Regions from separate parts of the Homo sapiens genome. Here region 1 is linked to region 2. A link means that fine-mapping ties the variant in region 2 to the expression of a gene that starts in the linked region. Tissue or cell type: whole blood. Region 2 holds a variant in brackets; the other region holds the start of a gene. All regions are shown on one strand. Distances are from middle to middle.

Region 1 (4,950 bases), 290 kb after region 2:
CGTAATAAATGAATGAATACCCAGATCAAAGGGAGAAGGTTAACGAGCAGATGTAAAGACTAGAGGTTCAGGTATACCGCTGTTGCCTCAGAGGATGTCAAATCTAAATACGAACCATGAACCCAAGGTTTTGGTTTTTTTTTAAATTCTCAGAGCATGTTATGGTAATTAGATGTTTAGCTAATAAGATCCATATTTGTTCTAGCCTATTAGGACTAAATATAACAACAATCTTTCCATTTTGATGATACTATTACTTCTTCCAACACGCTTACATATATCTATTTTAATTCCCCCAGTTGTCTGGAGAGTGAAGACAGAAATTCCCATCTTACAGATGGACAAACTGTGGCCTAGAGAAGTTAGAGGTACTTCATCCACTGTACCTCCCAGTAGATCAAGTTAGCGCTCTTTCCATTGCTATGCTGACCACAGGCTCTTCCATAGTCTCACAGGACTCAGATCTTAGACCCTGTTCAGTGGCAATGTGGAATCTGGATGGCGTCGTGCCACCCTGTCAGCCACAATGTGTCCTCCCGCCTGTGTTCCCTCTTTCTCTCCCTTTATTCAGGAAAGAGAGGGGAGGTGTGGGGATAAAAGATGGGGTGAGTGGAAGAGTCTGTTTCATTTTATGCTTCCTTGCTCTTCATTCTAAGATTTATTTCTGGACCACAGGAGTGGAGGGTGGCATATGAGAAAATTATTTCAATTGTATCATAATCTTCCCAAGGTGTGATTAAATTGAGGCATAGGGAAGAGAGGTGACCTCTTCCAGAGTCAGACACCACTTGATTTAGAACCAGAGGGCCCTAATTTTCAGCTTGGAGCTTTATCAATTAGATATCTCCAATCCTACCACGGCTGGTCTTAGGTGTAGCTGGCCAAACTCCATGAACAAATGGAGGAAGTGTTCCAAAATCTTCTAGCATCTTCTTCAAATCATCTTTTTTAATAAATTGTGGTTTAGATTCAGTCTACCCAGAGATAAAACGATCGACTAGTCTGTCTGCATGGGGAGACAAGATCTACTTATAAAAATAAATAAATAATAACACAGGGTAAATATGATAATTTATTGGTGTGTTACCAACAATGAATGCTAAAGAAGTTTGAAGGAAAGAACAGGTATGGATCAGGCAACACAGCTTAGACAGATTCTTTGTGGTCCCACAGGACAAAACTAGCAGTAGCCAGTGAAAGTTACAGGAACACAAATTTCAGCTAATTACAATGAAGAACTTTTGAAGAATTCGCTGATTTCTGCAGATGTTGGAGTAAAGCCTAGATCCCCCAGTCCTGTGTTGAATGTGCGATTGTTCGAGATGACTGGTTAGTCTAGATTTCCTTTTCTTCTTCCTCTCTCTCTCTCTTTTCTCCGGCTCCCTTTCTTCATCCTTCCCTCCCTTCGTTTCTTCTGCCGCTACTGCTCTAAGAATTTGGTGCAATTGCTTTTAGGTATTCGCAGTGATTTTTGTTGTTTTTTAGATTTATACCACTGAGGACTGTGGCCACGAGAGGGCAGTAGAGGAAGCTTATCAGAATACTTGGACAGGAGTAAACTCGTGTGCGCTCTAATCGCGAGCAGGGACTACGCAGATCCTGCGAACTCGCTGGGGTCCAGCTTGCAGGCCGCTTCCGGAAAGCCGTGTCTAGAGGCTGCGGAGTTACTGAGACTGTGTGGCGAGGAATCAGTGGCCTTGAGGGCACCGAGACATTGTCATCCAGAATCCCGAAACCTCTCACCTTAGGTTATTAAAATAAGTTATCTTATTGCCACCCCTCTGATTACCCTGCCAGAAAGATTCTCTGAATTGGATATAGAAAGCTCTTCTCCCGTCCCCAATGCCCCCATGCAAGTCGGGACTTACCAGATGCCCAGGATCCCTATCAGGGCTGGAAGTTTGAGATTCAATTCAGAGCAAGGTTCATCTTCTCATTGCAATAATAATAATAACAACAACTTCAAGCCTTATTTGACAGCTTGTTGGCCTTTTTCTTTTTTTAATTTACAAGAAGAGGAAATTTGCTCCCACAAATTCCAAGACTCTAGTCTCAACCCTACCAGACAAGCCCCGTTCCTCCCCACTCACCCCTCACTCAAATTACAGATGAAGAGGGAGGTGTGCAGGATGTGTGCGGTGACAGGTGATGCGAATGGGGGGGATTCCCTGTCCCTACTGCCCTCACCCACTCTTCCTGTGTTCTGAGCTCCCCCCTAACCCCAACGCTAGACCTTCTATTCCCCCGGGGGCCAAGCCAGCTGGGCTCGCAAGGCCCGACTCGAATTCCCGGGCCCTGGCAGCATTTTCCTTGCCCCCTTGGCTACTTAAGGTGGCCGATGGGTCCGGGCTGAGCTGGGCGCAGGACAGGCAGCCGAGCGGCCTCCGGATGCCAAACCTGCTTCTCCTTTGTTGACAGCTTGCGGAGGAGGAAGTCCGCGCGGGCGGGGGAGGGGGCAGGGTGCTGGCGGTGGCGGGCGGTGCCAGCAGCGGGCGCGGCCCCAGCCCGGGCGGACGCGGCCGGCGGGGAGGGGGTTAACGCGCGCGGCCTCTATGATAATGAGCTGCATGGTGAAATAGGGAGGCCGGCGCTCAGGGCTCCTCCGCCGCCGCCGCCGCCGCCGCCGCCGCCGCCACCGCGGGAGCCAGAGCTGCCGGGAGGAGCGGCATCCGCGCCAGACTGGAGCGGGAGGGCGGCGGAGGGCAGTTGCTGGGAATTTTTCAGCCGAGAGGGCGAGCGATCCGGAGAGAGACCCCGAGAGCTTGGGAGCGGTAGGGCGTGCGAGCGCCGCAGCCAGCGGAGCAAACCTCGAAATAGATCTGGAAAGCCAGGCTCCCGGAGGAAATGGGACTGTGAACGAACCGGAGAGCAAGAAGGGAAGGAAGCGCCGGGATTGCTGATGTCAGAGGAGCCCGGAAAGTCGCGCTGGAAAAATCTGAAGACAGCCGGGGCTCTGCTTCTTCCTCAGGAGAGACACCGCCGGCCGCCCCCACACGCCCCCTCGGCGCCTCCGGGTGCCCCCTGAGAGCCGGCGACAGCGCCCAGCCGGGCTGCTGCGGGGCGACGGAGGACTGAGGGGCGCGCGGAGCGGAGACCGAGGAGCGACTTCAGGAATACAGATAAGTGTCTGGTGGCTTGACGTGGATTTTAATGAATTTGGACTCCATGTGGATTTGGTCGTCTCCCTGATTCCGAGCTGCGGGCAGGGAGAGGGGCCTCGCGCCGCCCTCAGCAGCCGGCGGCGGCCGAGGTAGACCGAGCGGGGACGGAAGGACAGACCGACGTCGCCGAGCTGGGTAAGCGGCGGCTGGGCCGGGCGCTCGGAGTCGGCAGCGCCCTCCGCCCTCTCCCCACAGGCGCGCACACCCGTGGCGGCTTCTCCCGCGCCCGCCTCTTTGGGGTCCCGGCCCCAGAAGACCCGGCTTGGCCGCGGCGGGCGAGTCCCCGCGTGGGCTCGGCCACTTTCGCGGGCTGGAGCGCGGCGTGCGCGCGATCGCAGGCTCACTGGAGCCGCTGCCTCCCGCCGAGGGCTTCCCGGCCGGCAGCCCGCCGGCTTCCCGAATGCGGGCTGAGGGCGGCAGCAGCGCTCCGCGGCGCGCCTCCACCGCGCACCTGCCGGCGCTCTGCGGCTTTGGGGAGCTCGGGGCGGCAAGGCTGTCCTGAGAGCTGGAGCCCAAAGAGGGCCTCGGTGGCACCAGCGAGACAGCCCAAAGCCACACTGGCCAGCGATCGATTTGGGGGCGTTCACTCCAGTGCCGGGGTCCCTGGTGGCCGCCGGCTCTCCCTTCCGATCGGGGACTGGAGATCAGGGGAATGGGAAAACATCATTTGCGCGGGTTCCATAAGGCTCAGGGAGAGATTCCTAGGCACTGAATGGGTCTAAGTGTTTCATCTCCCGGGGCTCCCTTTGCGGTGTATCGCCCAGCAGGGGTCCAGCCCCTTAGTTTGAGCACCACAGGAGTGCTGGGGGTTGAAATGGGAGTTTGCTTAGGGTCCCAGAGGCTCCTTATGAACCATTTGAGAATGTTTCCTTCCATGTGCTCTTTCTTGCCCCACCCCACAAGTGAGGTAGGGATCCTAGAAAATTCTAGCCCTTTTTATCCATCCCACAGGTAGTCTCTATAATGCCAATCATGGTCTAGATGCCCAGAGAGTCACCAGAAACTACCATTTTAGATCCCCGAAAAAAGTCCACCTGTTTGGAATGACCCTTGCCCTAGTGGGAGCTACCTACTCAAACTCAGCTCTGCTCAGGAGGGATAGAAATAATGGTGGGGAGGAAGTTGGATAAAAGATTTGGGGCTCTAGGTCAGTAAGGGTCTAGAAATGAGAGCCCCATGAAGTGGGCAATGGAAATCTGAACAGGTCCCCTGTAGGAATCTTAGAGTGACAGTGGCACACCAGTAGAAAGTGCACAAGGGACATGAAGGCAGCATCAGTTTGAGGGGACTGGGACTGCCAGTCATAGCTTGAGGCAGTCACTTGGGGGCCCATCAGTTTGGAAGAACCCACAGAAATTTGGGGGCACATTCATTTCCTTCCATTCACGCGCACAGTGGACAAGGCTTATGAGCGGCAGGCCAAGATGAGTATCTTGGCTGGCCTGGGCTGGAGGCTTTGAGAGCAGGAGTCAGGTTTAGCTCTCCCCTCTCCCCACACAATAGCAGTCTCCCTCCTTTGCTGGGCTTCTTTCCCAGATCTTGAAACTTCACTCTTCCCTCTGGGTTGGCTTTGGATTCTGGGGCCTTCTACTGATTGACAGAGCCCCAGGAAGAGATAACCTTGGCTGGAGGAATTCAGCTATTCCTAACTGAAATGCACAACTTTTATGCAATAACCCCAGAAAGCTCCCAGAGTTGCTTGCAGCCCTCTCCCCTCTGACCTCCAGGCAAGAAAAGAGAAGAATTCATTAACTTCCCTCTCTCTTCACGGAGCACCATTTGAACTAAT
Region 2 (4,950 bases):
CCCGCCTGCAAAGGCCTCCACCAGCTTTGCTCAGGCACAGCCTGACAGCACCTCCTCCAGTCTCACCATGCACCTCTCATTTCCTGTCCTAGAGCTTCTCTGATTTGCAGCTTGGCACGCACACAAGTGCAACCTGCAAGTGCCAGTGGTTAACGCCAAGTGGGGATCACCCTTGACTAATGGGTGACAGAAGCTAATGGATAAATGCTTCTCCTTTTGTTCCCTGGACAGCTCATTTTGATTTGGATTTCATAATGCCGCTTAGAAATTCTAATGGAATTGAGCACCAGTCTCTTGTGCAGTATCCAAATCCATAACTCCTCCTTGCATTGCCTGCCCTCCTACACTGATTCACTCCTCCCCTGGCTTGGGTTCCTTCTTCTGGGATCACATGCCCAAGTAAGCTCATAGGTGTGTTTAGCAGGCCCTGCATTTAGAAGAATACAGGATAAGGTGGTATGATTGTCCTTGCTTTAAAGATTAGGAAGTAAAAGGTTAAATAAATTGTTCCAGGTCACACTGGAGTCAGAAATGGGACCCTATTCAGCTGATTCCAACAACCATGACCTTAACCACTCTTCTATGCTGCCTCATACTCAGAATTTTCCACATAGCAGTGTTTCAAGGGTGGATGGCCCTTCCTGTTGGAAACAGAGACATCCACATGCCAGCAAGGAAGATACAGCAGATTGCCAGGATGAGCAGGGTTTCAAGGGCGGCCCATCTTACTGGGACTCAGGGAAGGGTCCTAGCACTGAAGAGAGGCTCATCACTAACCAGGGACTGAAGAAGAAGTCTGAATTTGTGGCTTGGGAAATGCTGTGGGTTACTGGCAGGCTGTGCTCAGGGAGCAGGTGGTGCCAGGTCCTCACTCGGCTATCCTGGATGCCAGTCCTGTGGCAGCAGAATGAATTTCAGAGCCCCCCCTGCAGGAGGCAAGTGAAGAGTCTCACTTGGTAAGAACATAGGTATGTGTGAGGTAATTAACATCAGGGTTATTTTAAATATAGATGTAGTCAGATTGATAAGAAGCAAAGCATCATAATAGCTAAAAAATAATAACTGCTTTATCCAGCACTTATTTGTCCCAGGCACTGTGCTACGCACTTTGCATCTATTATCTTTTCAGCAACATGATGATGTAGACACAATAATTACCTAAATTTTAACTATCAGGATTAGAGTGGTTAATTCAGCAAATGTCACACTGCTAAGTAATAGAACTGGGGCTCAAACTAGGTCTGTTTGACACCAAAGCCTTTTCTTCTCAATCAGTTTTCTAGAATGCCTGAATGAAGACTCTTTTTTAGGAGGCCATGAACAGCTGTTGCAGATGTTGAGCCAGGACAGTGTGGGTAAAATTATTCTAATGCCAATATATACATTAAAATAAGTCTAAGAAGAAACCATTAGGAGGATATTTCAACGGTCCAGAAGAAGGTGACACGAAATGATATTAAGGGGGTGGCCTGTGAGTAGGAAAGATGAGATCTGACTTAAGCGAAGCTGTGAAAAAAGAATCTTTGGGGCCAGAGTACCAATTAAAATAGAGCATACGGGAAAGGATGGAGTCAGGAAGAATGCTGAAACTGATTCTGATTAAGTAATGAAGCTGCCATTAACAGAAATAGGGACACCAGCAGGAGCTAGAGGGCAACGGTCAAGTCTGTTTAGTTGACAAAGGTCTTTTGCGGAAAACATATCCCAAAGGCTGATTGAATTTTGGTTCTTGGGCTCAGAAACAGGACTAGATCTGGAGATGCAGATTTAGCAACCATCCATTAGTCCCACTGGAACCCTCCAGTGAGGCCAGCTAGATAAACCTGTCCCGGCAGCCCAGCCCACTCATGCATGGGAGCCTGGATCCCCTCACTTCTCTTGCCCACCTGCTCTTTGCTTACTCAGTCCAGAGGTCTATGTGGTTTTCACTCTGCTCTGTCACTTTCAACAAGAGATTCACACATGACCTGCCTTGCCCAGTTTGGATTCCAAGCTATTTGACAGTAGGGACTACATCTTGAACTTCTTTTTCTTTTAATGCCAAATGGTATTCTAGTAGGTTGTTAGCACAATACCCTATTGGGCTTTTCATTTTTATAAGAACAAATTCTGAAATGCAACACAGATCATCTTTCTATTTAAGTTTGGGGCCATTTGAAGCAGCAATGTATAAATTCAAAGCATTCACCTAAAGTGCCTTCATCTGCATCATTTTAACCTCAGTCTTCACAGGTCTTCCTCCACCCTCAACCCTTAAGACTTATTAATAATCAACATTCGAGTCTCCCATTCTTCTCTCTCCAATTTCTACCCTCAGGCAGTTGAGACGTAGGAGCTTTGCAATTAAATTCTCCCCTCCAGCCAAACTGACCCCAAATCATACTTATGAAATTGCTCGTTTATCGATTGTGTTGTTTTTGTTTCTCCATTTTATGTGGGCACACAGGGCCCTGCTCACAGGCAGGGTTGCTGTGCTTGGAAAGGTGATCTCCTTAGGGCACTAAAGCCGCGTTGGACAGAGAGGAGCTTAGCCTTTCCTCCTGTCAGATCTGCAGGTGGCTTTGACCACCACAGCCAGTTTATGACTGCCTGTGGGCAGTCTCGGCCCTCAGCTAATGTGTAGAACAGGCAAGGCAAATCTGCGAAATCCTCCCACCCACTTGCCCTGTCAGCACCATTCCTGCTGACCAGTGCCTTCCTTGCTGTGGCCGAACCCTCAGGACAGTGCCCCACCAGCTCTGTCTTTGTCAACCGCTCAGTACAATGTGGATGTGTGGAGTGGCTACTTACGAGTTAGGCCCTGGGTGAATTGTGCAGTATTCCACAATGAACACAGCACAGTTCTCTCTTCTCAAGAAGAACCAGGTTTAATAGGAGAGGCAAATACACAAACAGGAAACTACAGTACAGTGTGGCAAGTGCAATATTAAAGAGAAGTTAATGAGAACAACAGACAATGGGTGCGTAACCTGCGCAAACAGGAAACTACAGTACAGTGTGGCAAGAGCAATATTAAAGAGAAGTTAATGAGAACAACA[G/A]ACAATGGGTGTGTAACCTGCGGGGAAGGCAGAAAGGGCTCTCAGGTGCAGAGCTGACATCCGTTAGCCATGACATCCGTCAGGCCACAGAGCCTGTGGCCCACAAAAATGCTTTAATTTTAATTTCTTTTAAAACAAGAATAGATGATTATAATAATAACGGCTAGTAACAATGAATTCAGCCTACATTATACGCATCTTCATGCCAGTGCTGTTATCAAATAGAATTTTACATTTTTTTTTTTTTTGGAAGAAGAGCCCACAAAGGCCAAATTGCTTAGGACCAGCAAAAGTGGTACTGTGACCCTGCCTCACGAAGAAACTAGGGCAGAGTAGAAGATACACAGGCAAAGTAGGAGAGGTCTAGGCGAGGGACCAGTGTAAGCGTGTGTCAAGAATATCAGCATGATGCTAGGGAACAAGCCGGATATGGGGAGTCGTGAGAAACTAGGTAAAGATGTAGGCAGAGATTTGCTATATTAAGAACCTGGAATTAGTCCTACAAGCCTGTTCCCTTCCATACTCCCACGTACCCCACAACACGAAATCAAAGTTTGCTAATCCTGTGCCCCATTCTCTCCCAGCTAATATTTTCCTTAGAACATAATCTGGGTAACTGCAATGTGCCAAATGTCACTGCCCACAAGCAGCTTTCTATGCCACCTCCCATCTACTGACAGCAATGTCTTAAATAAGGAAATATGTTTCCAATGGCAGGTGAGGAAGGGGATTTAGGAGCAGGAATGCTCTGGGCTTTCCACTGGACTCCTCTGCCTGCATCAGGGCATCTGAGAGGCTGGGACCTCTCAGAAAGGCTGGTGACAGGCCATTGGCGGTCTTTCTCTTTCTGGTTACAAAGTGCCCAGAGGTCTGCTCACTCAACAACTATTTTTGAAGCATGAAGTGAAAACAGGATGAAAGAACAGGAAAAAGTGTCCATTATGCAAGAAGAGAAGAGCCTCCCCCCAACCTCCTAATGTGTATGTCATTTAAATACCCTTGTGAGAGGTGTTCATTATTTCCCCCATTATTTAGAAATGTGCTTCAAAGACCCCTCCAACAGCGTCGTGCCATCAGTTGTTTAAACACACGATTTGTTAAATCACTACCCTCGGAGCCCTGGAGCTTAGGGGTTATATTGTCTCAGAGCAGACACAACTCGGGGGTCACCCTGCTGCTGCTGAGGATTGTCTCAGCAACTCCCCACCGCATCCTGATGGTTAATAAGGATCAGCTTTTGAAAGGCAAGGTCAAAAGGAGAACTAAGTGACTCCTGGTGCTGGCTGAGGGTGCATGAGTTCATTGTTCCCAGCGGCTGGTCAGTGCCCAGTGAGGAGAGAGCCCATTGTTGCCAAGCAGCCTGAGAGACAAAGCCCAGCCCAGCCATCAACCTATGCTGGGGGCTAGATGGGGGTTTCCAGAAGGAGCCAGTCCTTGACTTTAGAAATAATTCTCTTTAGGATAACTTGTTTTCATGAAAATGGGAAGCTACAAAAAGATGCATTAAGTGTTGATCATGTACATTATCAAAGAACACCTTTAAGCATCTGTTCCCCTGAGTACACGAAAGTGTTTATTTACAGGTCTTTAAACTGTAGGATAGAAATGCTCATAGCAAGCCACTGATTATAGAAAATCAAACTGAGATGCATTCATTGATTTGAGAGGAAAATAAGAATAATGGGGAGAAAGGTTTCAAACTTTAAAAAAATCAATTTATGTAAATTGATCAAAGAAGATCTCCGCTGCATAAAGAGAAATATGTCTCCCCTTTCTCCTGTTTTTGGCATAGCAACTGTCAGCTCTTATCTGCTCACTGCCTTTTGTGTCCCCACACACCAGTCTACAGACCTTGTCTCTGCATGGCTACTTCACTAAAAATGCAAAATTCCCCTGGGAACCAAAGGTGAAC

What was found. PIP is the estimated chance that this variant, and not a neighbour inherited with it, causes the effect.
Region 1: PLXNA2 starts here. The variant in region 2 is fine-mapped to the expression of PLXNA2 in whole blood (TOPMed, PIP 0.93).

The regions. Positions count from the first base shown.
Region 1 is chr1:208,241,989-208,246,938 of GRCh38, reverse strand. It overlaps PLXNA2 (plexin A2), which reads left to right and starts at 2,555. Exons shown (of 32, transcript NM_025179.4): 1 at 2,555-3,296. RefSeq lists a silencer at 2,438-2,497 and enhancers at 3,016-3,515, 3,516-4,017.
Region 2 is chr1:208,536,836-208,541,785 of GRCh38, reverse strand. No RefSeq gene overlaps it. Among named protein-coding and RNA genes, the nearest start is that of LINC01735, 75 kb to the left of the region's middle. The variant G/A (reference allele first, on the strand shown) is at 3,039.